Linked DNA regions of Homo sapiens. The protein of the gene in region 5 purifies or fractionates together with the protein of the main gene of each other region. This does not show direct contact. Each region holds a gene or a part of one and is shown on either strand. Other genes may lie near its edges.

Region 1 (3,500 bases), on a different chromosome or scaffold from region 5:
AGGAGAGGGCAATGAGGCCCAGCGGGAGATAGCAGCAAGGTAAGGTGGGCGGGCCTGGGACAGCGGACCCTCGACATGCGGGGTTAGGGGCGTGGACCCCCACTCAGCTCAAATCCAAGTACAACTTTTGACTCCCACGAACTTAACTAGGAATGGCTTCTCGCTGACCGGAGGCCTTGTGAGGACACTTGGTCAATGCACACCAGCCTCCTGTTCTCACAATAACAGGCTGGAGAACAGAAAATACATTCAGAAAAGTCTAAGGGGCCGGGTGCGGGGGCGCACGCCTGGAATCCCAGCACTTTGGGAGGCCGAGGCGGGCAGATCACGAGGTCGGGAGATCGAGACCAGCCTGGTCAACACGGTGAAACCCTGTCTCTACAAAAATACAAAAATTAGCCGGGCGTGGTGGCGCACACCTGTAATCCCAGCTACTCAGGAGGCTGAGGCAGGAGAATCTCGTGAACCCAGGAGGTGGAGGTTGCAGGGAACCGAGATTGCGCCATTGCACTCCAGCCCAGGCGACACAGTGACACACCATCTCAAAAAAAATAAAGGACAGGCTGGGCGCGGTGGCTCACGCCTGTAATCCCAGCACTTTGGGAGGCCGAGGCGGGCGAATCATGAGGTCAGGAGTTTGAGACCATCCTGGCCAACGTGGTGAAACACCGTCTCTACTAAAAATACAAAAAATTAGCCGGGTGTGGTGGTGCACAACTGTAGTCCCAGCTACTTGGGAGGCTGAGGCAGGAGAATCACTTGAACCCGGGAGGCGGAGGTTGCAGTGAGCCGAGGTTGCGCTACTGCACTCCAGCCTGGGCGACAGAGCAAGACTCTGTCTCAAAAAAAAAAGGAAAAAAAATAAAAGGAGAAATCCTGTTTGCTGTTCACACAGTGGAGGTGGCCACGATGAAGGCCTGTGTCCTTGTGTTCATATTGAGGGCTGAGGAGCAGGAGCAGGAGGGTGGGTCTGTCTCCGGGGTGGCAGAGGTGGAAGGGGAGGCAGGAGAGGCCGGCACCGTTGGGGCAGCCTTTATTGAAAAAATTCACATATGAGTGGACCTGTGCAGTTGAAGCCTGCCTTGTTGAAAGGTCATCTGTGTTTCCTTAGCATTTCAGGAGGGTTGAAAATGGAGAGGGGGCACTGACCTGGTCCAGAACGACCCCCTGAGCAAGTGATGTTGATGGAGAGTGCAGTGCCCCAGGCTCAGGGATGGAAGGCCCAGAGCCCAGAGGGGCTGGGCAGGTGGGAGCCATGGCAAGGCCGGAGCAGGAGGAGTGAGGGAGGCCCTGTGGCCCAGTGTGACCAGATCCGCATTGAGGGTGGAACGCGCCGTGGATGGGCCCAGGAGCGAGGCTGGGGAGTAGCAGCTGCAGACTCCAGGCAGGAGACAGCAGCGGGCTCGGTGGGGACGGCAGAAATGAGGGGTAGAGGATGCAGGTCCTCTTTGGAGGAAGCGAGTTCCTGTGGCCAGGAGAGGAGGCAGCTTGGCAGGTGAGGGCGTGGGGGGCTGTGGTGGGGGTCCCCAGACTTCTGGCTGGAGCATCACAAGCCAGGACAGGCTCAGGAGGGACAAGTACTGGCTTGGATGTGTTGGCGGGACCTGGGGCTGAGAGGTCCGCAGAGCAGTGTGTCCCAAGTGCTCTGTGCCTCAGTTTCCATGATTGAAACAAGGTCACTCAGACACATCTGTCCTGGGGCTGTGGGAACAAACGGACCCGATGGGTTGCTGACAGCCACAGGCCACACAGCAGAGAGAAAGAAAACAGCAGCTGAGGCCGGGCGCAGTGGCTCACGCCTATCATCCCAGCACTTCGGGAGGCCGAGATGGGCAGACATCTGAGGTCAGGGGTTTGAGACCAGCCTGGCCATCGTGGCAAAACCCCGTCTCTACTAAAAATACACAAATAAGCTGGGCGCGGTGGCACGCACCTGTAATCCCAGCTACTCAGAGTCTGAGGCAGGAGGATGGCTTGAATCCGGAAGGCAGAAATTGCAGTGAGCCAAGATTGCGCCACTGCACTCCAGCCTGGGTGACAGGGCGAGACTCCGTCTCAAAAAAAAAAAAAAGGTGGGGGGATGTCGGGACGAACTGGGGGTGCTGGGATAAAGTCTGGAGTTCACCGATGAGCAGAGAGGGGCCGGGCCTTGCCAGCTGTGAGGAGAGCAAGTGGCCTGGGCTTGGGCCTGGTCCCTGGCGGGGGTGCAGGGTGAGCTGAGACATGGCAGAGAGGAGGCTGGGAGCAGGCCTTGGTGGTGGCCCCAGTGTCTGGACCGTCGCGCAGGGGTCGGCGTTTGTGCTGGGGAGGAGGCCAGGGGTTGCACGCGGCTTCTGGGCTGTTCCCCGGTCCTGGATGGGCACCCGTCCATCTCAGCGCGCTGGAGCCTGGCACACAGTAGGCACGCAGTGATTGTGCATTGAATGATCTGTGGGAATTAAACATCTGATTCTCTCATGGGGCTTGAAGGGAGAACTGAAGATCTCCAGGGTTGCACTTTTGTAGATGTGCACATTGGCTGGTCCCATGAAGTTAGTATCTAAAATACCTTTTTCTTTTTTTTGAGACGGAGTCTCGCTCTGTTGCCCAGGCTGGAGTCCAGTGGCGCGATCTCCGCTCACTGCAAGCTCCGCCTCCCAGGTTCATGCCATTCTCCTGCCTCAGCCTCCCGAGTAGCTGGGACTACAGGCACCCGCCACCACACTTGGCTAATTGTATTTTTTAGTAGAGACGGGGTTTCACCATGTTAGCCGGGCTAGTCTCAAACTCCCGACCTCAGGTGATCCGCCCACCTCGGCCTCCCAAAGTGCTGGGATTACAGGCGTGAGCCACCGCACCTGGCCTCCCCTCCTTTTTTGTTTTTTTGAGACAGAATCTTGCTCTATTGCCCAGGCTGGGGTACAGTGGCGTGATCTCCGCATGCTGCAGCCTTCAGCTCCCTGGCTCAAGCAATTCTCCTGTCTCAGCCTTCTGAGTAGCTGGGATTACAGGTGTGCGCCACCACGCCCAGCTAATTTTTGTATTTTTAGTAGAGACAGTATTTCCGTCATGTTGCCCAGGGTGATGGTGAACTCCTGAGCTCAGGTGATCCACCCACCTCGGCCTCCCAAAGTGCTGGGATTCCAGGTGTGAGCCACCGCGCCCAGCCTAACGTATCTTTATTCACTCTATCATGGAACTGTCAGCATTGTAGCGAGGTCTAGAAGTAGAACAATCTGGGTGGGTGTGGTGGCTCACGCCTGTAATCCCAGCACTTTGGGAGGCCGAGTCAGGCGGATCACGAGGTCAGGAATTTGAGACCAGCCTGGACAACATGGTGAAACCCCGTCTCTACTAAAAATACAAAAAATTAGCCTGGTGTGGCGGTGGGCACCTGTAATCCCAGCTACTTGGGAGGCTGAGGCAGGAGAATTGCTTGAACCCGGGAGGCGGAGGTTGCAGTGAGCCAAGATCACGCCACCACACTCCAACCTGGGTGACAGACTGAGACTCCGCCTCAA
Region 2 (3,500 bases), on a different chromosome or scaffold from region 5:
CCATCTGTGCCCTTCCTTGTAAAGTCCAGTTTAGTGCGGCCAAAACCCCCACCCTCAGTATCTGCTCAGGTTCCTCATCCCCAGATCCCATAGGTGGTGTCTGCTCACCCTGGCCTCTCTTTCGCAATAATCCTGTTCAGTTGGTTTAGCCCAAATCCCCTTACTCCTCATGTGTCCTCTCAGTCATTTTCCATCCACTGCCCCCACCCTGACCCTAGGCTATAAACTCCCCCCGGCCCCTGCTGTACTTGGAGTTGAGCTCCATCTCTCTCCCCCACTGCAAAATCCCAGCGCAGTGGCCCCAGGCCCACCTCAATGGTTCTGAATAAAGCCTTCCTCACTGTGCCTGACAAGGGTCATTCAAAACATTTCTTCCTCTAACAGTATATGTAAAAAGATTGAAAGACAAACTTTAACACATGTGTCCTATTGTGGAATAAATCCCTTTATTTTCCCTCTTACACATTTCTGTATTTTCAGCTTTTCTCAGAGAGATATGTATCCTCGTAATCTGAAAGAGGCACCTAGAACTCAGTGCAACTCCTTTGGAGTTGGAATATCAGCACTGACGAGCAAGGAACGTACCTGAAGTTTCGGCTTATGTTTATCTCTACAATACCTCCAAGCCCACACGCTTCTTCCCACCTTTACTGCCTCTCCCTCCAAAACCGTCTCTCCCCAGGAACACCCCTCTACTTCATCTCCCGCCTCCACTTCTGGCTGCTCAATTCTGTCACCCCTTGCAGCCATCACCATCTGAAACCCACTCGTCGGGTAACCTGTCTGCTGTCCTCCTGTTACAACTGTGGTCGGGCTGTGCAAGCTCCACGCACCCCATAAGCAGTCACTACATCAACATTAATTACAAGATGAAAGTTTCCGTAATCAAAAAGGCAGTTTAGATCCGAATACATCAATACTTTCCTGGGAACATTTATGTTTTAGAATATGTTTTGGTTTTTTTGTTTTTGTTTTCAGATGGAGTCTTACTCTGTTGCCCATGCTGGAGTACCGTGGTGCGATCTCGGCTCACTGCAACCTCCACCTCCTAGGTTCAAGTGATTCTCCCGCCTCAGTCTCCTGAGTAGCTGGGATTACAGGGACACGCCACCACATCCGGCTAAAACCCCACGTTTCCCTGTTTCCTCAGGTAGCCCTCAGGCATCGTCTCAGGTGCAGCTAAACAGCAGGATGCTGCCTGGTTTTGCCCCACTTGGAGGCACACAGACAAGCAGTTCATTGTCCCCCACACCCTGCCACCGGGACAGGGTCAGGAGGGGACAAGGTGCAGTGACCTTTGGCTCATGTTACTGAAAGAAAAGGGTTTCCGTGACAGTCTTGTGGTTTCCTGACCATGTTGGCCAGGCTGGTCTCGAACTCCTGACCTCAGGTGATCCATCCACCTCGGCCTCCCAAGACTACAGGCATGAGCCACCACACCCAACCAGAATATGTTCTGATTAAGTTTAAAATTTGGTTTGAGCTCTTCCAGTTCCAGGCAACATGGAGAGGACACATTTCAACCTGCTCCTCCCGCATATTAGACCCACTGCCCTGGAGGAAAATATACGGAACAAGCATTGGGGGACTGAAAGGAACAGAAGCCAACCAGCCAGGGGCCTCGGCACTCGAGAGAGAACCCAGCGCTGAGTCCCTGGCTTGACTCTGGGGTTTTGTTTATGCTTATTTACTACACATCCCACTCTGGGTGCCACAGAAGTCGGCAGCCCAGAAACACAAAAAGACCAAAAACCGTAAGCCTGCTCTCGATGGCCAAAGGACCAGGAGGGGCCTGGCAGGACAGACTCTCTGTACATCATCAGCCCTCCTGCAACCACACACACTGTTCACATCATCAGCCCTCCTGCAAGCAAACCCCCACCCACACACACAACAACACATACACACACGCACACACCCCTCGTCCACTTGGCACCAGGAGGGGCCTTGCAGGACAGACTCTCTTCACATCATCAGCCCTCCTGCAAGCAAACCCCCACTCGCGCGCACACACACACACACATACACACACACACACACACACCCCTCGTCCACCTGGCCTTGCGCAGCAGCCAGCACCGGGGTGTGAGAATGGATCCTGACTGCTGTCCCGGCCTGGCTAGAACGAGGTGGTGCCCTTCACTCTCCCAGCCAGTAGGGTCTGCCAGAGGCCGTGGGTGAGGCAGGAGCTCCATGACTGTCCCGGCAACAAGGTGGCACCCAGCAGGCTCGAGTGAGGAGTCTTCTCAAGTAAGGGGATTTAAACAGGAAGCAGAGTCTCATGACATCATACCCAGCATGTCCACAATATGATAAAAAATGACCAAGAACCAGAAAAATGGCAATTTGAATGAGAAAACACAGTCAATCAACAGATACCACCAAGAGAGAACACAGAACTTAGGTCTAACAAGGATTTTAAAGTGACTGTCATAAAAAATACTTCAATGAGCAATTACAAACACCTGAGACAAAGGAAAAACTAGTCTTAGCAAAGAAACAGGAGATATAAAGAAGAAACAAATAGAAATTTCAAAGAAAAATACAATAACAAAAAATCACAAGAGCAGTTTAATAGCAAAATGGAGATGACAGATGAAAACTGTAAAACCGTAGAGAAAAACTAAGAGAATCTGTCACAAGCAGACCTGCCCTAAGACAACTGCTGAAAAAATTTTTTCAAATATAAAGGAAAAACGAAAGAAACCTAGAGCATCGTGGAATGAAGAAAAAATAACAGAACAGATAAACATGCAGATAAATATGTTTCCTCCTGAGTTACTGAAAAGGCTAGGTATTTAAAAAAAATCATAATATTAATACGGTTCTCAAGGTATGCAGAGGAAATACTTAAGACAACTAAATTGTAAAGGGGAGAGGATAGAGACCTAAATGGTGATAAAGTTTCTATATTTCACTTAGAAGTAGTAAAATACCTGTACAAGTAAACTGTGTTGAATTACATAAATACATTGTAATTTGTATAGCCACCACTATGAAAACCATACAAGGAGATATACACCAAAACATAACAGATAAATCAAAATGAGATACTAAAAATATTCGAGTAAGTCACAGCAGGCAGGAAAAGGGAAACAGAAGAAAAAACACAGGAAACAATCAAAAAACAATAAAATGGCACACTTAAGTTCTAATATTTAACAATTAGATTAAATGTAAATGGCCTAAAACACTACTACAAGACAGAGATTAGCAGAGTGAATAAAAATAATGAACCAGGAAACTAATTTCAAATATAAAGATACAGGTAGGTTAAAAGTTCAAAGCAATGGATAGGAAAAGATACGCCATGCAAAAACCAATCAAAAGAAGCTACCGTAACAACAGTAATATCAAATAAGACAGATGTCTCAACAAAGAAAATTACCAGGAAAAAAGAGGAACAAGGCCCAGGCACCGTGGCTCACACTTGTAATCCCAGCACTTTGGGAGCCCAGCAGAGATCACCTGAGGTCAGGAGTTCGAGACTAGCCTGGCCA
Region 3 (2,244 bases), on a different chromosome or scaffold from region 5:
TATTCCTGATGGGCTTTTCTAAAAAAAAAATTGAATTTATACTAAAACATTATTATGATTTAATTTTTATGTGTAAAGACACTACCTATATGCTTTATTCACATTTTAGTGAACTACATTGTTTTATCTTTCTGAAAATCTTTTTGTTTGAGACAAGGTCTCGCTCTGTCACCCAGACTGTAGTGTAGTGGTGTGACCTCGGTTCAGTGCAACCTCTGCCTTCTGGGCTCAGGTGATCCTCCCACCTCAGCCTCTTGAGTGGCTGGGACCACAGGCATGTGCCACCACACCAGGCTAATTTCTGTATTTTTTTTGGTAGAGACAAGGTTTTGCCACGTTGGCCAGGCTGGTCTTGAACTCCTGGGCTCAAGTGCTACACCCGCCTCGGTCTCCCAAAGTGTTGGGATTACAGGCGTGAGCCACCGTGCCCAGCCACCTGGCCTCTTTCTATAAATCTTAAGGAGGTGTTATGAAAGAGGAGAATGAGAAAATTCATTAATTTGACACCTTTTCAGGTTTAACAGTCGTTTGTTTGTCTGTGTTGACTCTTGCCGTTAGACCTGGTTATCACTGCTGCCTTTTCTGCGTTTCTTCCTTCCTTGTAGATCTGGGACATGACACCTGTGGTGGGCTGCAGTCTGGCGACTGGGTTTTCTCCGCACTGATCTGAGAGCTGGGCGGCGTCCACACCTAAGAACAGCAGCTCCACCAAATGAAGTCCCTCTCACGCAGCTCCACAGCGCTGTCTCGTGAATGGACAGTAGCCACTTACAAACAAATCAACATTTTTAAAAAGAAAATGTAAAGGTGTGTTTTGGGGCATTTGTGGAACTTACCCATGGGGACTAATATGGAAAAGGTCTGTCCATAGTGGTTCCCTGAAGACTGGAATTACTTCAGCAAAACTTCCCCATGAACAGCTAATGTGTAGTGAAAGAATGAGCTAGCAAATGAGTTTTAGCGGGGACAAAAAATCAAACAAAAAAGTGAATGCTTAGAACCTTCTCAAAGCAGTCACAAGTACAGACACTTCACTTAGCCTAGGGGGCCTTCCAGGGTTCTTGTGGCTGTTGTCAGAGCAGGAGCTGGGGGAGGGAAGACTTGTTCTCTCTTTCTTGAGGGGTGGCATTAGGAACTTACGAAACCAGAGACCTTTCCCTATGACTTGGCAGTATGTGAATATCCTCTACACTTAGTTATTGATAAACTTCTTAAAGAGATCTGTTATTTTCAGGTAGTGCCATAATCTGCACTTAGCATTGGCTTGCTTCAGTTGTTTCTCTTCCCAGCCAGTATGCCACAGGTGAACTTTCGGGGTTGTCATTAAGTAAGTTGTGAAATTTCTGTAATAACAAAGGCAGTCCGCATTCTTCCCTTTCCCCCAAATTCCTAGGGCAAAACTTTTTTATGGTGCTGTTAACATGGGAGTCACACAAGCCGCCTGACTTTTTCTCATTGCCATTAGTAATGACTGATGGAAAACCCAGCCACCACTGTGATGCGAAATGATCAGTCTGTTGCCTGAAACAGCCCAGTCCTCTTAACTGAAACAGCATTCTACTTCTTGTTCCAAGATGAGCCTCTGCAATATTCTGGCAATTTAATATACCCCCTACAAAAGCACTCCACAGCTTTTACACTATTTTGACTTTGAGTTATAACTAGTATTATTCATGTTTTCATAAAAAGAAGTTAGTGACCCAGAGCTATAATCATCCATCAAGTCTTCCACAATAATTCCCAACTCATAAATTGCTTTCCTAACAACTAGCAAAAGCTATTGTTCATAATGGCATTTCTAAAGCTTTTGGGCACTGTGTACCAGGATGAGGAAGAGAAGAAATGAGGAGCCTGTCTTTTAATATTCCAGTATTTGTGTGTTTGATTTTTTTTGACAACAGTACATATATCTATTTCTCTAGGGATATGGAAGTAAGTGGAGAAGGGCCTACCTTTTTAAAGGACAAATATAAAAATAGCAACAGTATCTTTGCTAATCTTACTAATAGATATTGATTAAAAAAAAAAAACCTCAGTACTGCATCACTGTGTTGGGATCATACCAGGACAATAGGGTCATTCCATATGATAAAACTAAAGGACTAAATTTGTTTTATAATGATGTCTTAGAGGGACTGAAAGGTTTAAGGAGGCGATCAAACTAAAATGTCTTAATGGCTGTGTGACACACGTAAGGAAAGGAAAGGGGGTCACGCACATCATGTACTGGAATGATCTGCATTA
Region 4 (4,161 bases), on a different chromosome or scaffold from region 5:
CCTCTGTCGCCCAGGCTGGAGTGCAGTGGCGCGATCTCGGCTCACTGCAAGCTCCGCCTCCCGGGTTCACGCCATTCTCCTGTCTCAGCCTCCCGAGTAGCTGGGACTACAGGCGCCCGCCACCGCGCCCAGCTAATTTTTTGTATTTTTAGTAGAGACGGGGTTTCACCGTGTTAGCCAGGATGGTCTCGATCTCCTGACCTCATGATCCGCCCGCCTTGGCCTCCCAAAGTGCTGGGATTACCGGCGTGAGCCACCGCGCCCGGCTGCCTGTATGGAATTTCTATGAGAAATTATTGCATACTTTGTTGTCGGTTAGACCTGGGGTAAATCCCTGCTGCTGTCATTTATCTGCCGAAGTATTAGACGCATCTGGCTGAGCCTTAATTCATTCATCAAGCATTTATTGAGCTTCTACCATGTTCCAGCCCCGATCCTGGCACGGGGGCCCTGCTGTAAACAAAGCTGTTCTCTGCCCTCAGGAGCTTGCTCTCTGATAGGAGAGACAGGGACTGCAAGCTCAATCCCCACCAGAAGCGCTGTGAAGACAAAACAGGGTGATGTCACAGTGACTGGAGGAGGGGGCACCTTTGAGCAGGGTGGTGGTGGTGGGGCTCTCTGAGGAGGCAATACCATTGGTGTTTAAGAGTCAAATAAATGTTGCTCGTCTAGCTCTTGGTCCAGCACCTGACAGATATTAAGCGCTCAGCAAATCTCATAGTGACCCTAGTTGTCATTTTCATTAGTTTACTGTCCTCGCCACCGGGAGAACATGAGCTGGGGAGGATGCGGGGCAGGCTCGACGTTTCTCCTCTTTGGGCGCACAGCACAGAGCTGGCACACAGCTGATGAACACATGGCACCCGAAACCTCTGCACACAGTAGGGCTTGATAAACCAGCCCACTCTCCATCGGCCTCGCTAGGGAGCATCGTACAGAGCACCCGCCAAATGCTTCCTGGCCTCGGCCCCAGCCCGGCGCCCTGCCCTCGCGTTCCTTGCACACAGTGGGCGCTTAACGCTGCCGGCTCAAGAAATGCCCATTTCTGGGCCCTGCCTCGGCCCATTGCATGGGCCCGTGAACCGAAGCCTAGCTGGGCGGCGACGCGCCGCGAGCTCCCAGTGGGCTGGAGCCGGGAGCCCTGCCGGGGCTGAGCTGGGAAGGCGGGCACGCGCCTCCGCCCCAAGCTTCCGCGCCCAGCTGCGTCCAGCTGCGTCCCAGCCTCCGGCTCGCGGCGGTTGGCTGCGGCTCAGCGACGTCCGATTGGCCTGCGCGGCTCCGGCGCGAGCCCCGATTGGCTGTGACGCGCGGCCGGGCGAGGACCCCGCCCGCGCCGCCGCCGCGCCCGGCGCTGGGCGGTCATTGGGCGGCGTGATCTCGCCGCGGTTCCGCGGCCCTGCCGCCGCCGCCGCCAGCAGAGCGCACCGGGCCGATCGGGCGAGTGGCCATGGCGGGCGCCGAGAACTGGCCGGGCCAGCAGCTGGAGCTGGACGAGGACGAGGCGTCTTGTTGCCGCTGGGGCGCGCAGCACGCCGGGGCCCGCGAGCTGGCTGCGCTCTACTCGCCAGGTAAGACCTCTGGGCCCCCCTCCAGGCCTGCGGTCACCAGCCCCGGCTGCGGACAGCGACCCCAGACTGGAGTCCCAACCTCGGGCCCAGATGCGGAACTCCAGCCCGGGTGTCTAACTTGCAAATAGCAAGTTCGGGGACCCCACCCCAGTGTCCCTTCCGAACCCAAGCCAGAACCTTGGCCCCGGGGTTTCCTGGCTGCAGAGACACTCCCCAGATCAAGAAATTACCATGAGCTCCCTGGGCGACAAACGGAGCTCCCATCGGACCCGCAGATACGGAATCCTAGCCCCGGGGCATTCTCGGTTGTGAAGAGTGCTCCTAGACTTAGAACCCCACCCCCTCATCCCCCCAGGACCCGGTCCAAGCCCAAAGCTGCCCTTCAGCTGTAAGCACTGCCCTCAGGCCCCTAAAAGTCACACCTCATCCTGGGTTCCCCAGATCTGGAATCTACATCCTAGTACCTCCTCTGTGCCCTAGCCCAGGCCCTGGGCTGCAAACAATGACCTCACCTCCCTAACCTGGGAATGTCAGCCCCTCTGCCCAGGGAACCCTAACTCAGGGGCTTCCAGCTGCACGGTACCCCCCACACCCTTCCCCCAAAACCCCATCCTAGTGATAGCTTCAGTGGCTACAGACCGATATCCTCTCCCCAACCCTCCAGTGGTGAGCATCAGTCCTTGCCCCATATTCCTGGATCCCAGGCAGTGAGGGGACTGAATGTACCCCACTGTAAGCTCCCCTGTACATAAGCCCCAACTCTAGCTCTTGCCCCTCCCTCACATCCATGTATTGGCCCCTTCCTTAGGACTTGGGACTGGAACCCCCATATTCCCCAGACCAGATCATAAGTTGGAGTTCACCTCTCCCTCTCTGTCCCTTTCCCTCAGGCCACGGTTTCTCCCTAGCTTCTTCCTGCTTTGCTCACTGTATATGCTCCAGCAAGCACCCCCCCTACACCCACTTTTGTGACTCCTACGTGAGCCCTAGGAATTTTACTGTTTGGCCTCAGGAGGGCCCTATATCCCCAGGAGTTAAGGAAGTGCCTTTGAGAACTCCTGGTTCAGGTGACTGGGAGGCACCTCTACCTGGGTGTCACCATGGAATGAAGCTTTGTTTGTCAAATATCCTGACATCCTTCCTTTTTCTGTGGGGCAGCCACCAAGCACCACATGCAGCCCTTGCCTGGAGTGGGCCTGGGGTCACTAGCACCTTAGCTTTCTGCCCTCACTGGCCTGGGTTCCATGCCGTCTCTTCCTTAAAAGGCGGCATGGCCACGGACCATTTGCATTTCCTCACTGGGTCCTAGACCACTCCATTCTCTGTATGTGATTTTTCACACCTGACTTGGGCACCTGGTCCATGCCGCTATGGTTTCTTCAGGCCTATACCCAAGACACCCAGCCTATGGACTTAAAACCTCCTGCTCTCCTGGGGGTAGGCCAGGGTTAACATCCTGACTCTGTTATTCAGCTGTATGACCTGGTCCAAGCCACTTTCCGTCTCTGTTTCCCCTTGGTTTCCTTGCAAGTTAAAGTTTATCTGCCCCTTCGTGTTAGGAAGTGGAAATGAGATCGTCCACTGGCATTCAGTAGGCACTCCCTGTTGTTGTGTGGGTTTTTTTGTTGTTTTTTGTTTTGTTTTGTTTTATTTGTTTTGAGATGGAGTCTCACTCTGTTGCCCAGGCTGGAGTGCAGTGGCGTGATCTCGGCTCACTGCAAGCTCCTCCTCCCGGGTTCACGCCATTCTCCTGCCTCAGCCTCCTGAGTAGCTGGGACTACAGGCGCCCGCCACCATGCCCGGCTAATTTTCTGTATTTTCAGTAGAGATGGGGTTTCACTGTGTTAGCCAGGGTGGTCTCGATCTCTTGACCTTGTGATCCGCCCACCTCGGCCTCCCACAGTGCTGGGATTACAGGCGTGAGCCACTGTGCCTGGCGCCTCCCTGTTGTTAACAGTAGTCTGACCTTTGCTGTGGGGGATCCGCCTCACCTCTCTGGTCCTCAAACTCCCCACCTGGGAATTGGGGATAAGGATTCAAGGGCCTCCCTCTTTAGTGTCCAGCTCTGCCTGCTCCTGTGAACCCTACCTACTTTCAGACAGCCCAAATCATTCCCAGGCATTCTGAGCCTCCCCAGGGATTGCTGTTTCCCCACTCCACCACGATCAATTGCATATTTGTCCATTTCTGGTTTCCCCAAGTGCCCTTCACTCTCTGAAGAACAGCCATGCCTGAATCAGAGTCTGCAGACAGCCTGGTGCCCCAAATCTGCAATCAAGGCCCTTTATCTCCTCCAGACCTGGAGGTAGGGGAGGAGACTTGCCAAACTGGTTTCTCCAACTTCCTTTCCACTGGCCTCTCTGCTTCTATCTGCTCACTGTGTGATCTTGGGGAAGTATTTGACCTCTCTGGGCCTGAAAAAGTGAGAGACCAGGCTCAGTGCATATTGAACACCTATGTTCTAGTCCATGTTCTAGGCTCTGGGGGCAGAATGGTGAACAAGACAGAAAAAAATGGAGCTGGCCGGGCGCGGTGGCTCACACCCGTAATCCTAGCACTTTGGGAGGCCGAGGTGGGTGGATCACTTGAGGTC
Region 5 (3,500 bases):
AAAGGCTCTAGAATTGTTGGAAGAATCTGGAAAGCAGATTCTTCCCAGGAAATAGGCATGATGGGGTGTGAAAGGAAGGTTGCCACAAGGGAAAATGGCTAGACTTGTGCAAAAGAATGAATGGACAAAAGATCACCAAGGGGTTTTGGTCCCATTACGAAGTGAGTGTTTAACTAGTAGAGCCACTGAGATGGAAGATACACCTTACTTCTTGGGAAGTAGTGAGTTCCCATCGCCAGTGGTTTGTAGATAACAGACCCTGTTTCAGTCCACTTGGAAGAGATACTGTAGCAGGAATTCTTAAGCAGGATTGAACGTATAATAAGCAAGATCTCTTCCACCTCTAAAATTCTCTGGTTGTGGGTATTGAGAGCTACATAATAATAATAGCACCTGACATTTTTCACATTTCTGGAGCATTTACTATGCACCAGGAACTGTTCAAGACTTTCCATTTAATCCTCACAACAGTTGCATAGGTAGGTGCTGTTATTATTCCTCCCTCATATATGAGGAGACTGCAGCACAGCACCTAAGATTGCATGGCTGTGGGTAGTGGAGGTAGAATTGGAACCCAGGCTTTGGCTGTCAGGCTACACTCTCACCCTGTGTACTGCCGCCCGAGCAGAGCAGTGTACCATCAGCCTCGGCATCCATGGATTTCACCAACCATGGACCAAAGATATTTGGAAAAAAAAAATGCAACAATAAAAACAATAATACAAAATATATATATATATGTGTATATATATAGCATATATATATATTTTGTATTATTGTTTTTATAATATATATAGCATATATATTATATATGCTAAAATATATATATAGCATATATATACACACACATATATATATATACACATATATATATATATACACATATATATATATATATATATATACACATATATATATATATATGGCCAGGCACAGTGGCTCATACCTGTAATCCCAGCACTTTGGAAGGCCGAGGAGGGAGGATCACTTGAGGCCAGGGGCTCAAGACCAGCCTGGTCAACATAGCAAGAAAATAAAAAATAAATTCTACAAAAAAAATTTTTTTAAATAGAGTATAATAACTATTTATATAGTGTTTACATTGTCTTAGATATTATAAGTAATTTAGAGATGATTTAAAGTATACAGGAGGATGTGCATAGGTTATTTGTAAATACTATACCATTTTATATCAGAGATTTGAGCACCTGCAGATTTCAGTGTCCATGGACAGTCCTGGAACCGGTACCCTGTGGATACTGCAGGAGGTCTGTACTTTTTTATAGGAAGGTCAAAATCTCAAACTGAGATGGCACTCCTTTATTCTGCTGTAGAACTGTAATTTGGGATGTCAGTGTGGGATTCAGGAAGTATCATGAATGACTGCTATGTAATTTTTCTTTATATTCCTATCCTTCTAGATAATTTTTCATTATTTTCTAGTCATGGAACTATATCTTTGTTAAACTTATTGGAAATAAAATACCCAAGAATTTTTGCTCTCTTTCTCTCTTTATCAGATTAATAGAACTGAATCTCTGACATTCCAAATTAATCCTGCTCTTTAAAGAAATTTTCTTTTAGGCTCTTCATTACAAACTATTCTTGCTGATCAAATTCCACGTAATGTCTGAGGAAAACAGATTCCACTGGCAGTTGCTTTTGTTACATTTGAGTGGAGAAATTTCCTTGGTCATTACACCAAAATATTGACCAGAAAGGTCCTGTTGCTCCTCAACTTCAGGGGAAACAATAGGGTTCAGGTCTGAAACTCAGACTTGTTTGAGAAAGATAATGTGCTTTCTTTCCTTCTTAGGGTGTGAGATGAACTAGAACATTTCAATATCTTGAGCGTCCAACAAAATGCTACTTGGGCAATCTGAGCCAATGATTATGCCAAGTTCTTTGTAGGAGAGGAATTGGCTTGAAAACTTTATCTTCTTTCTCAGTGTATCTATGGTGGAAGAACACTGGATCAAGGAACTCTAAATAATAATTCTTGGAGCAGCTATTTCAAATCTTATTCTTACATGCTAATAGAAAAAAGATAGGATTATTATTTCCTCCCTCACTCAGAATGCAGTGATAACTACCAAATAAACCAATGTGAAAGAGTCAGTTGTCTTGGACACCATCTCTACTTCAGATAAATCTGGGTGCATAGCTTGAGCCAGTAATTTGGGCTAAAGTGTGTTTCGGACTTAGAAATTTGTGCAATAGTCAACTGTCTAAAGCAGTGTTGTTCAAATAGAACTATAATGTGAGACACACAAGTATTTTAAAATTTTCTAGTAGCTACCTTAAAAAAGTAAAAAGAAATGTGAAATTAATTTTAAGGACTTAACCCAATATGTTGCAAAATATAATTTCAACATGTATTCAATATAAAAATTATTAGATATTTTAGGCTGGGCACGGTGACTCACGCCAGCACTTTCGGAGTAATCCCAGCACTTTCGGAGGCCAAGGCGGGCGGATCACAAGGTCAGGAGATCGAGACCATCCTGGCTAACACGGTGAAACCCCGTTTCTACTAAAAATACAAAAATTAGCTGGGCATGGTGGCCGGTGCCTGTAGTCCCAGCTATTTGGGACGCTGAGGCAGGAGAATGGCGTGAACCCGGAGGGCAGAGCTTGCAGTGAGCCGAGATCGCGCCACTGCACTCCAGCCTGGGCAACAGAGCGAGACTCCATCTCAAAAAAAAAAAAAAAGATATTTTAATGTAGGTCTTTGAGATCCAGTGTATATTTTACAATGACAGCATATCTCATCGTGGACTGAATTTTCACCAAAAATATTTTATCTGTATTTACATTTTGTAAAATTCACAGCTAAAAAGTTAAATTTACATACAGGTTTCTCCTAACATACCTTAAAGATTTTCAATATGAAATAAGTGCCAAAAAGATACTTTATCTTTAATCTTTGTGTCTACCTTGCCATCTACCTTGGTCTTTTTCAGAAGATTTGAGTTTGAAGCAAAGTGAAATGCAGTTTTGCCAAAACAATAAAGTTGCATTTAATTGAAAAATATTTTACGTTGCTTCCATTTTAAATTTAGATGTAAACTAATTAAAAGTTAGATATTCAATTTCTTGTTCCTACAAGCTGTATTTCAGGTGCTCAACAGTCACATATAGTTAGTGGCTACTGCATCGGCTAGCACAAGTCTTAAGCTTACTTTATAGTTGCAAAGACTCATACACTTTTCCCTTGAATCTAGCTCGTGTCTCATACTCAGTGTTTGGTTATAAGGGGGGTGGGATACGTGACATCCACCCACCAAACTGCAGCCTGCTTTTCCCTTGTCACCAAGTAGAGGCCTGCAGAAGGAGGGAGAAGATAGAGACTGGTGGAAACCAGTCTGTCAGAGCAGGGGAAAGTAACTATTCTCTGTCCTTTTGCTTGGCAGGTCCATCTCCCATTTGCAGTGGTTGGCAGCACCGAAGAGGTGAAGATTGGCAACAAGATGGCAAAGGCCAGGCAGTACCCCTGGGGT
Region 6 (3,500 bases), on a different chromosome or scaffold from region 5:
TATCATTGCTCTTGCATTTAATATTTAAAAAATCACAAAATGCTACATTTATTTCTGTTGGTAATATTATATAAATGCTAAATGGTGGTTGGTTCCTGATATTCTAGGAATATTCTAGGGCTGTAACGAAGACAACCCTCTTTTTGTTTTAGCTCCTTTATCAAGCCTCTTCTGTCCCACAAAATTATTCCCAGATAACTCCTTAGAAATGAACATTTTAAGAAAATGTGTATCTGTGTTGCATGCTGATGTTACACCAGAGGAAAGAATAAACATTTAACAAATTTCTTTGAGTAAAGAAACTATTTGATGAAGTATGCTGCAGATAAATCACCCACAAGTTTTAAGACACAAGTGCCAGTGAGTGACAGTGAGTACCCTGACTGCTCGTGTTCTGGATCCAGAGTGGATGATGACAGAGCATGCATATCAGAGCCATACTACACACCACATTTAAGAACAAATTCATGGACAGGGTTAAAGTAAATGTTCCCTACAGACAGGCTGCCGTTTTTTATTTTTAAATTACAAACTTACTGAGGGCAGGATTGATTTCTTTCTTTTCACTGCATCTCTGAAAAATGGAGTGGAAGAAGAGAACCGGCATTTATTAAGTGCCAACCGTGTGTCAAGTCCTATGCTTTGGCACACGTTAGATCTGTCATTTCCTAATTTTCTCAACTTCTCTGTGAGATAGGCATTATTATCCTCCACTTACAAATTCAAAACTGAAGCTGGAAAAGAAGGAATCGGTAAGCCTGTTTCAAACCTTTTCTTATTCTCTGTCACACTAAAAAGTATCTTCCACTTATATTGTGCTTTGCATGTACAAATGCTCAATTAATGTTTTCAATATTTAATTTATGAATTTGAATCTTAATAAAAACACTCCAGAGCTATATGTTACTTTTTCGTAAAGATAATTCTAAAACATTAACAGGTATTCTAAGAACTTGAAAGAATATTTATTAATATGAAAAGGAGGAATTTGCCTTGGCTTTTGGCAACAAATAATGAAATTATTTTAAAATGTAAAAATTTGTAATTTTTACTTTTTCAAATGGGAGGCAGTATAGTGTGATAAAAAGAGAGGTTCTGAGGAAATGAACCTTCCTCAACCTTGACTTTCTCACCAATAAGGCTCTAACAGTACAATTTTCCAGCTCAGAGGCACCTGAGAGGCTTCCCTCAAGAATGAGACACTGAATGGCAAAGAATTCAGTAACTATAAAGCACTGATGAACATAATGGCAATGATAACAAAAGTCCTAATATAAGGAACCATTTCTTCAGAGCAATCAAACCAAGTGATGTTTTCAGGCACCAAGGTGCTTCGGGAGCCACGTGTTCCAAGATGTTAGTTCTTCAACCTAGAAATGAAATCTTGGACCATGAATCTTGAAACAACTACAGAATAACTTTACACTTAAGCAAATTAAATTTGAGATCGTAACATCCTTTTCATAAGAGTATCAAAATCTTTTGCAAATAATAAAATCAATAATTATTATTATACTCATCCAATGAAGACACCACACTCCAATAAAATGATTTTAGCAAAAGTCCCTCACCAACGCACAAAGACTGCCCCAATCCAACTTGCGTTGTTTGGTGAACTGCTTCATAAGTCAGGGTGCCAGATCTGGACACAATGCCTTAACGAAAGAGAATTCAAAAATATTAGATTGTGTTTCTATGTTAGACTAAAACATGGTAAACTAAATTACCAAACACTTCGAGTGACTAACATAGGTATAAAATTCATTCCATGATTTGCCATCAAAATCAATAGTATCTTCAAACGATGAAATGAAAAGGAAAGGCTTAAATTCAAGCAGGGGGGTTTTTTAATTTAGACAAAGGAGAAAGTATATTATTAGTTAAGGTTATTTTATGACTATAAAAACAATGCAAGAAAGACTTAAATTACCTCTTCTGAGAATCTTTATGAAGAAGCTAGTATCAGTATAAATTTGGTAGGTACTAATCATACCTACAGTGGCAGAATGTAATAGATTAGACTTATACTACCTTATGTAGTCTGGGTATTTGTCCCCTCCAAATCTCAGGTTGAAATGTGATGCCCAGTGTTGGAGGTGGGGCCCGGTGGGAGGTGTTTGGGTCATGGGGATAGATCCTTCATGAATGGCTTAGTGACCTCTCCATGGTAATGAGTGAGTTCTCACTCTGTTCCTTTACATGAGAGCTGGTTCTTGAAAAGATCCTGGCCTCTCTCATTCCCTCTCTCACCATGTGACACGTCTACTCCCCCTTCACCTTCTGCCATGAGTAAAAGATTCCTGAGGCCTCACCAGAAGCTGAACAGATGCTAGCACCATGCATGTATAGCCTGCAGAATCATAAGCCAAACAAATCTCTTTTACTTATAAATCATCCAGGCTCAGATATTCCTTTGTAGCAATATAAAACAGAATAATACAGTACCCAAACTATTAAACCATCAAAACTAGCATTAGTCACATTTTAAAATACTACCTATCTTCTCCACAACTATTTTCCCAATGATTTTCAACCAATATATAGGCTTTAAAATCAATATAAAGAAAACTGGGGAATAAGGTCAAGATCCCTCTGGAATCAAGTCTCCCACCTAATTTCCTTTATAAATGGACCTGTGTGAAAGCACTTAATTTCACATCTGGATTAGGTGTGCGCCGAGGGAGGAGAGCCAGTGGGGGCCAGGGAGGAGTGACAGTTAGATGTCTTCTCTTGTAGTTTACTATGCTTGGCTGAGCTTCCAGAAAGGTAATTTATTCAAAGCCACAATCTATGTAATACTTTAGACAAACAAAAAAATTAATCCAGGGTGTCCATGGTTTACTTTCCTTAAACTCCTGCCTTGGAGCAACTCTGAAGAACTCAGAAGACCCTTTTCTAACAATATGATCACCCTACCAGGGCAGGTAGAATTCTTGTCAACCTGAGACAAAAACCATAACTATAAGTTACCTCAACTTCCGTGCTACATGTTTACACTCTTAAACAAAGTGCTATGTCACCATTATTGTATACTAATGCGTACTAAGTGTGTGACCTATGCATAAACACATCTTCTCACTATGAATTTGGGCACACAATAACTTCAGGTTCTACATACCAAATTCAAAGTCAAATTCAAAGAATGGTGTGTACGTAACTTAGTCATTGCTAAGCAGACCCTACAGAACACTGTCAGATTGCTCTTTTAGATGCATTTCACTAGACAGTGACAACTAAATCCTCGACGATGCCTCACTTCACGTGGAACTCTGCTCTAACTCGCCAGCCCAGCAGAGTCCCAGCTTCCCTCTCCAGACTTGTTTCTTACTATTTCCCTACCTAGTGAAACTGGGTTATTCCTCATTGATATTTCATGCTCTCCTATCTTTTCATATTTGTTCTGCTTAAGATGGAGTGTTTCACCTCCACCATCTGACAAAACTTCTAATCATCCTTCAAGGTCCACATTAAATGCTACTTTCTCTTTGAGGTCTTTCCTG
Region 7 (3,500 bases), on a different chromosome or scaffold from region 5:
CACAGATGTTGTTCTCTACCTGCCCCCTTCATTTCGCTGGCAGGACTGCATGCAGTGGGTGTCAAGGTTGGGCCTCACACAGGGGATAAGTGAGGGCTGATCTGCAGCCCATACTCCACACACCCAGCCATGTGCCCTGGTGGGGGCTCAGCCTCTGCCTGGCAGAAGGGGCCCTTTCCTCTCACCTGCACAACGGTGGCTTCCCAGCACAAAGGGCTTAAAGTGTTTGGGAAGTTTACACCCAGGAAGGCTGTGGGCTGGCCTGGCATAGTGGGCTGGCGAGCTGGTGCACTGTCTCTGGTATGCAGGAAAGATAGAGAGGAGAGGGAGGGAGGTGCGAAGTCACTGTTGCTGCTGCTAGAAGGGCCAGAGAGAGCCCAGGCTGGACAGGCAAAACCTGGCCTCGCCAGACTCCTGGAGCCTGCACAGAGTGTGTGTCTGAGAAGTCCGGATTCTGGTGCCAGACTGACTGCCTAGTGAGAAGCCTGGCACCGCCGGGTCAGGCTAGTGCACTTTTTCTTGTTTGTTTTTTGTTTTTGAGACAGAGTTTTGCTCTTGTTCCCCAGGCTGGATTGCAATGGCACGATCTCGGCTCACTGCAACCTCCGCCTCCTGGGTTCAAGCAGTTCTCCTGCCTCAGCCTCCCGAGTAGCTGGGATTACAGGTGCCCTCCACTAAGCCCGGCTAATTTTTTGTATTTTTGGTAGAGACGGGGTTTCACCATGTTGGCCAGACTGGTTTCAAACTTCTGACCTCAGGTGATCCACCTGCCTGGGCCTCCCAAAGTGCTGGGATTACAAGCGTGAGCCACCGCACCAGGCCAGGTTAGTGCACTTCTGTGAGCCTGAGTGTCCTCCTTGAAACGGTGACAATAATATACCAGGCCTCTTAAGATCACTCATTCAACACATACTGGAGAGTCTACTGTGTCAGGCATTGTTCTAGGATATTGTTAGGATTCAGTGGTACCCAGCAAGGACTCAGTAAATTCCAGCTACTGTTCCTATTAGGTCGCCAATATAAATGCTTGATGAGTGAATGAATGACTTCCGTCTGGGACTTGGTTGCAAATAAAGCCGAGCTGCATCTTAGGGAGGGGTGGAGACTTTGCCCCTGTTTGTGCCTTGAAGCCAGCAGGGCCTTGCCCTAGGATACCTCCACCCACCCTCCTGCCCAGCAAGTGGAGGTGAGGGGCGTGGCCTGGGGCTCTCCGGGAGGTCATGGTCATTGGGTCACTCGGAGCTTGTGTTTATATGAGGCCTGGCAGAGGGAGGCCCCTGGCTACCCACCTTTGTGCCCGGGTTCACCACCACTGGTTTCTGCGTTCCCTGGACTCTGCCCTGCACGGGCCGCACCTCCCCCGCCGGCCCTCGCCCATGCTCCAGCCCCAGCCCTAGCCCCAACAGCGGCCTCTCCCTGCTTCCCTTCTGACATCCTCCCTGTCGCCCAGGCCCGCAGCCCGAGTGTCGCCGCCATGGCTTCGCCGCAGCTCTGCCGCGCGCTGGTGTCGGCGCAATGGGTGGCGGAGGCGCTGCGGGCCCCGCGCGCTGGGCAGCCTCTGCAGCTGCTGGACGCCTCCTGGTACCTGCCGAAGCTGGGGCGCGACGCGCGACGCGAGTTCGAGGAGCGCCACATCCCGGGCGCCGCTTTCTTCGACATCGACCAGTGCAGCGACCGCACCTCGCCCTACGACCACATGCTGCCCGGGGCCGAGCATTTCGCGGAGTACGCAGGCCGCCTGGGCGTGGGCGCGGCCACCCACGTCGTGATCTACGACGCCAGCGACCAGGGCCTCTACTCCGCCCCGCGCGTCTGGTGGATGTTCCGCGCCTTCGGCCACCACGCCGTGTCACTGCTTGATGGCGGCCTCCGCCACTGGCTGCGCCAGAACCTCCCGCTCAGCTCCGGCAAGAGCCAACCTGCTCCCGCCGAGTTCCGCGCTCAGCTCGACCCCGCCTTCATCAAGACCTACGAGGACATCAAGGAGAACCTGGAATCCCGGCGCTTCCAGGTGGTGGACTCCCGAGCCACTGGCAGGTTCCGCGGCACCGAGCCCGAGCCCCGAGACGGTAACGCGGGGGAAGGGGGCAGGAGGTCGTCGGGGGCGCGGCCTCTACGCCCTGAGCAGTGCCCTGGACTTGACCTTTCTTTTATTTTTTTAATTTATCTTGCTTTCATTTCCTTTCCTTTTTTCTTTCCTTTCCTTCCCTTTCCCTTCCCTCCTTTCCCCCTTTTCCCTACCCTTGCCTTCTTTTCACAGGGTCTGGCTCTACCGCCCAGGCTGGAGTGCAGTGGCACAATCATGGCTCACTGCAGCCTCAACCTCCTGGGCTCAGGTGACCCTCCCCGCTCAGCCTGACCTTGCCTTTAAAGGCCACTGCATGAGGTGGGGAAGGAGATTTGACTTCCACTTGCCTCGGTGACTTTGTCTGTTAAGCAGAACCATAATACTGGCCCTTCCCCTCCTGTGCTTTGGGCAGTGACTCTCCCTAGCTCATTGGGAACCCTGGTTGCCCAAACAGCTCTCAATCCAACACTAGAGGTGTGGGGGGTCACTGTGGAATGTTGGGGGGCAGGCCCCAGTATGAGAGAAAAACCCAGAGGGATGGTCCTGATCAGGGCTACCCATGCCCCTGAGGATGGTGGAATGAAGGCAGAGTCGGGGGCTGCATAAAGGAAAGTCTCTTCCAGGGACCAAAGCTTGGAGAACTGAGGGTGGAAGGGGGATTAAACAGAAGTGGGTAGGGCAGAGCCTTCTGCCTGTGGGCTGGATTTCCTCAGGCAAGAAGCCTGTGGGTAAGCTCTGTATAATGCGAGGAGGAGTCCCCACAAAGCAGGCTGGTCAGTGGTCACGCTAGTGTGAGTCTTTCAAACATCCCGTGTAAGTAGATACTGTCATTGCACAGAGGAGGAAATGGAACCTGGCCCAAGGTCTCAAGAAACAACCCAGCCGGGATTCAGACTCGGCAGCCTGCGCACTTAACAGCCGTGAGCAACCAGGAACTCCCCAGCCCTTTCTCTTGTGCCTTCAAGAGTGCAAGAAACTGACCACTGCCCCTAGAGAGCTCTCTGAAGAGCATTCCCATGGCTACAGATTGGGTTTGGAGCCGCTTGGGCTCACCATGGGCCAGCATTGTTTTGGATGGCCTGAGGGCAAGGACTGTCCCTGCTCTTCATGCATCCTGAAGATTAGCTCAGTACCTGGCACAGAGTCGATGTTCCAGAGAGGTTTGGTGAATACAGAAGGTCCCTGTTGCATGGAATCCTGCAAAGCAATGTTGGTGTTACCGGAACCATAGGAAACAGCTGATATCCAACCATTTTTGAACCTACACAGGTGTCAGTTTCATGTGGTTCAGCCTAATGAGAGCACCACCTTAATCCTGTTGGGTTCTCCATCTCAGCCCCAGGGGAATGAGCAACACAGGGGAGCTAGCTGGTGGTGCCAGACTGGGGTTCAGATCCCTGCCACATTTACATGGGCTTTGTGACACACGACG

Evidence for each region.
Region 1: the proteins of SEPTIN11 (region 5) and BTBD2 purify together in Homo sapiens (co-immunoprecipitation; one large-scale study listed by IntAct). This does not show direct contact.
Region 2: the proteins of SEPTIN11 (region 5) and CEP72 purify together in Homo sapiens (affinity purification with mass spectrometry; one large-scale study listed by BioGRID and IntAct). This does not show direct contact.
Region 3: the proteins of SEPTIN11 (region 5) and WDFY1 purify together in Homo sapiens (affinity purification with mass spectrometry; one large-scale study listed by BioGRID and IntAct). This does not show direct contact.
Region 4: the proteins of SEPTIN11 (region 5) and PEDS1 fractionate together in Homo sapiens (co-fractionation; one large-scale study listed by BioGRID). This does not show direct contact.
Region 6: the proteins of SEPTIN11 (region 5) and SUCLG1 fractionate together in Homo sapiens (co-fractionation; one large-scale study listed by BioGRID). This does not show direct contact.
Region 7: the proteins of SEPTIN11 (region 5) and MPST fractionate together in Homo sapiens (co-fractionation; one large-scale study listed by BioGRID). This does not show direct contact.

What each region holds. Positions count from the first base shown.
Region 1 is NC_000019.10:2,009,215-2,012,714, reverse strand, and holds part of BTBD2 (BTB/POZ domain-containing protein 2), read left to right. Parts: intron 1-3,500.
Region 2 is NC_000005.10:615,340-618,839, reverse strand, and holds part of CEP72 (centrosomal protein of 72 kDa), read right to left. Parts: intron 1,012-3,500; exon of another isoform or gene 991-1,011; intron 1-990. UniProt on the Homo sapiens protein: Involved in the recruitment of key centrosomal proteins to the centrosome.
Region 3 is NC_000002.12:223,877,092-223,879,335, reverse strand, and holds part of WDFY1 (WD repeat and FYVE domain-containing protein 1), read left to right. Parts: intron 1-605; coding exon 606-665; 3' UTR 666-2,244. UniProt on the Homo sapiens protein: Positively regulates TLR3- and TLR4-mediated signaling pathways by bridging the interaction between TLR3 or TLR4 and TICAM1.
Region 4 is NC_000020.11:50,150,924-50,155,084, reverse strand, and holds the start of PEDS1 (plasmanylethanolamine desaturase 1), read left to right. Parts: upstream 1-1,361; 5' UTR 1,362-1,447; coding exon 1,448-1,568; intron 1,569-3,769; exon of another isoform or gene 3,770-3,873; intron 3,874-4,161. Other genes in the region: PEDS1-UBE2V1 (TMEM189-UBE2V1 fusion protein), read left to right, coding at 1,448-1,568. UniProt on the Homo sapiens protein: Plasmanylethanolamine desaturase involved in plasmalogen biogenesis in the endoplasmic reticulum membrane.
Region 5 is NC_000004.12:77,015,752-77,019,251, forward strand, and holds part of SEPTIN11 (septin-11), read left to right. Parts: exon of another isoform or gene 1-3,413; coding exon 3,414-3,500. UniProt on the Homo sapiens protein: Filament-forming cytoskeletal GTPase. May play a role in cytokinesis. May play a role in the cytoarchitecture of neurons, including dendritic arborization and dendritic spines, and in GABAergic synaptic connectivity.
Region 6 is NC_000002.12:84,431,781-84,435,280, forward strand, and holds part of SUCLG1 (succinate--CoA ligase [ADP/GDP-forming] subunit alpha, mitochondrial precursor), read right to left. Parts: intron 1,656-3,500; coding exon 1,572-1,655; intron 1-1,571. UniProt on the Homo sapiens protein: Succinyl-CoA synthetase functions in the citric acid cycle (TCA), coupling the hydrolysis of succinyl-CoA to the synthesis of either ATP or GTP and thus represents the only step of substrate-level phosphorylation in the TCA.
Region 7 is NC_000022.11:37,022,742-37,026,241, forward strand, and holds part of MPST (3-mercaptopyruvate sulfurtransferase), read left to right. Parts: intron 1-1,010; exon of another isoform or gene 1,011-1,186; intron 1,187-1,450; coding exon 1,451-2,069; intron 2,070-3,500. UniProt on the Homo sapiens protein: Transfer of a sulfur ion to cyanide or to other thiol compounds. Also has weak rhodanese activity. Detoxifies cyanide and is required for thiosulfate biosynthesis. Acts as an antioxidant.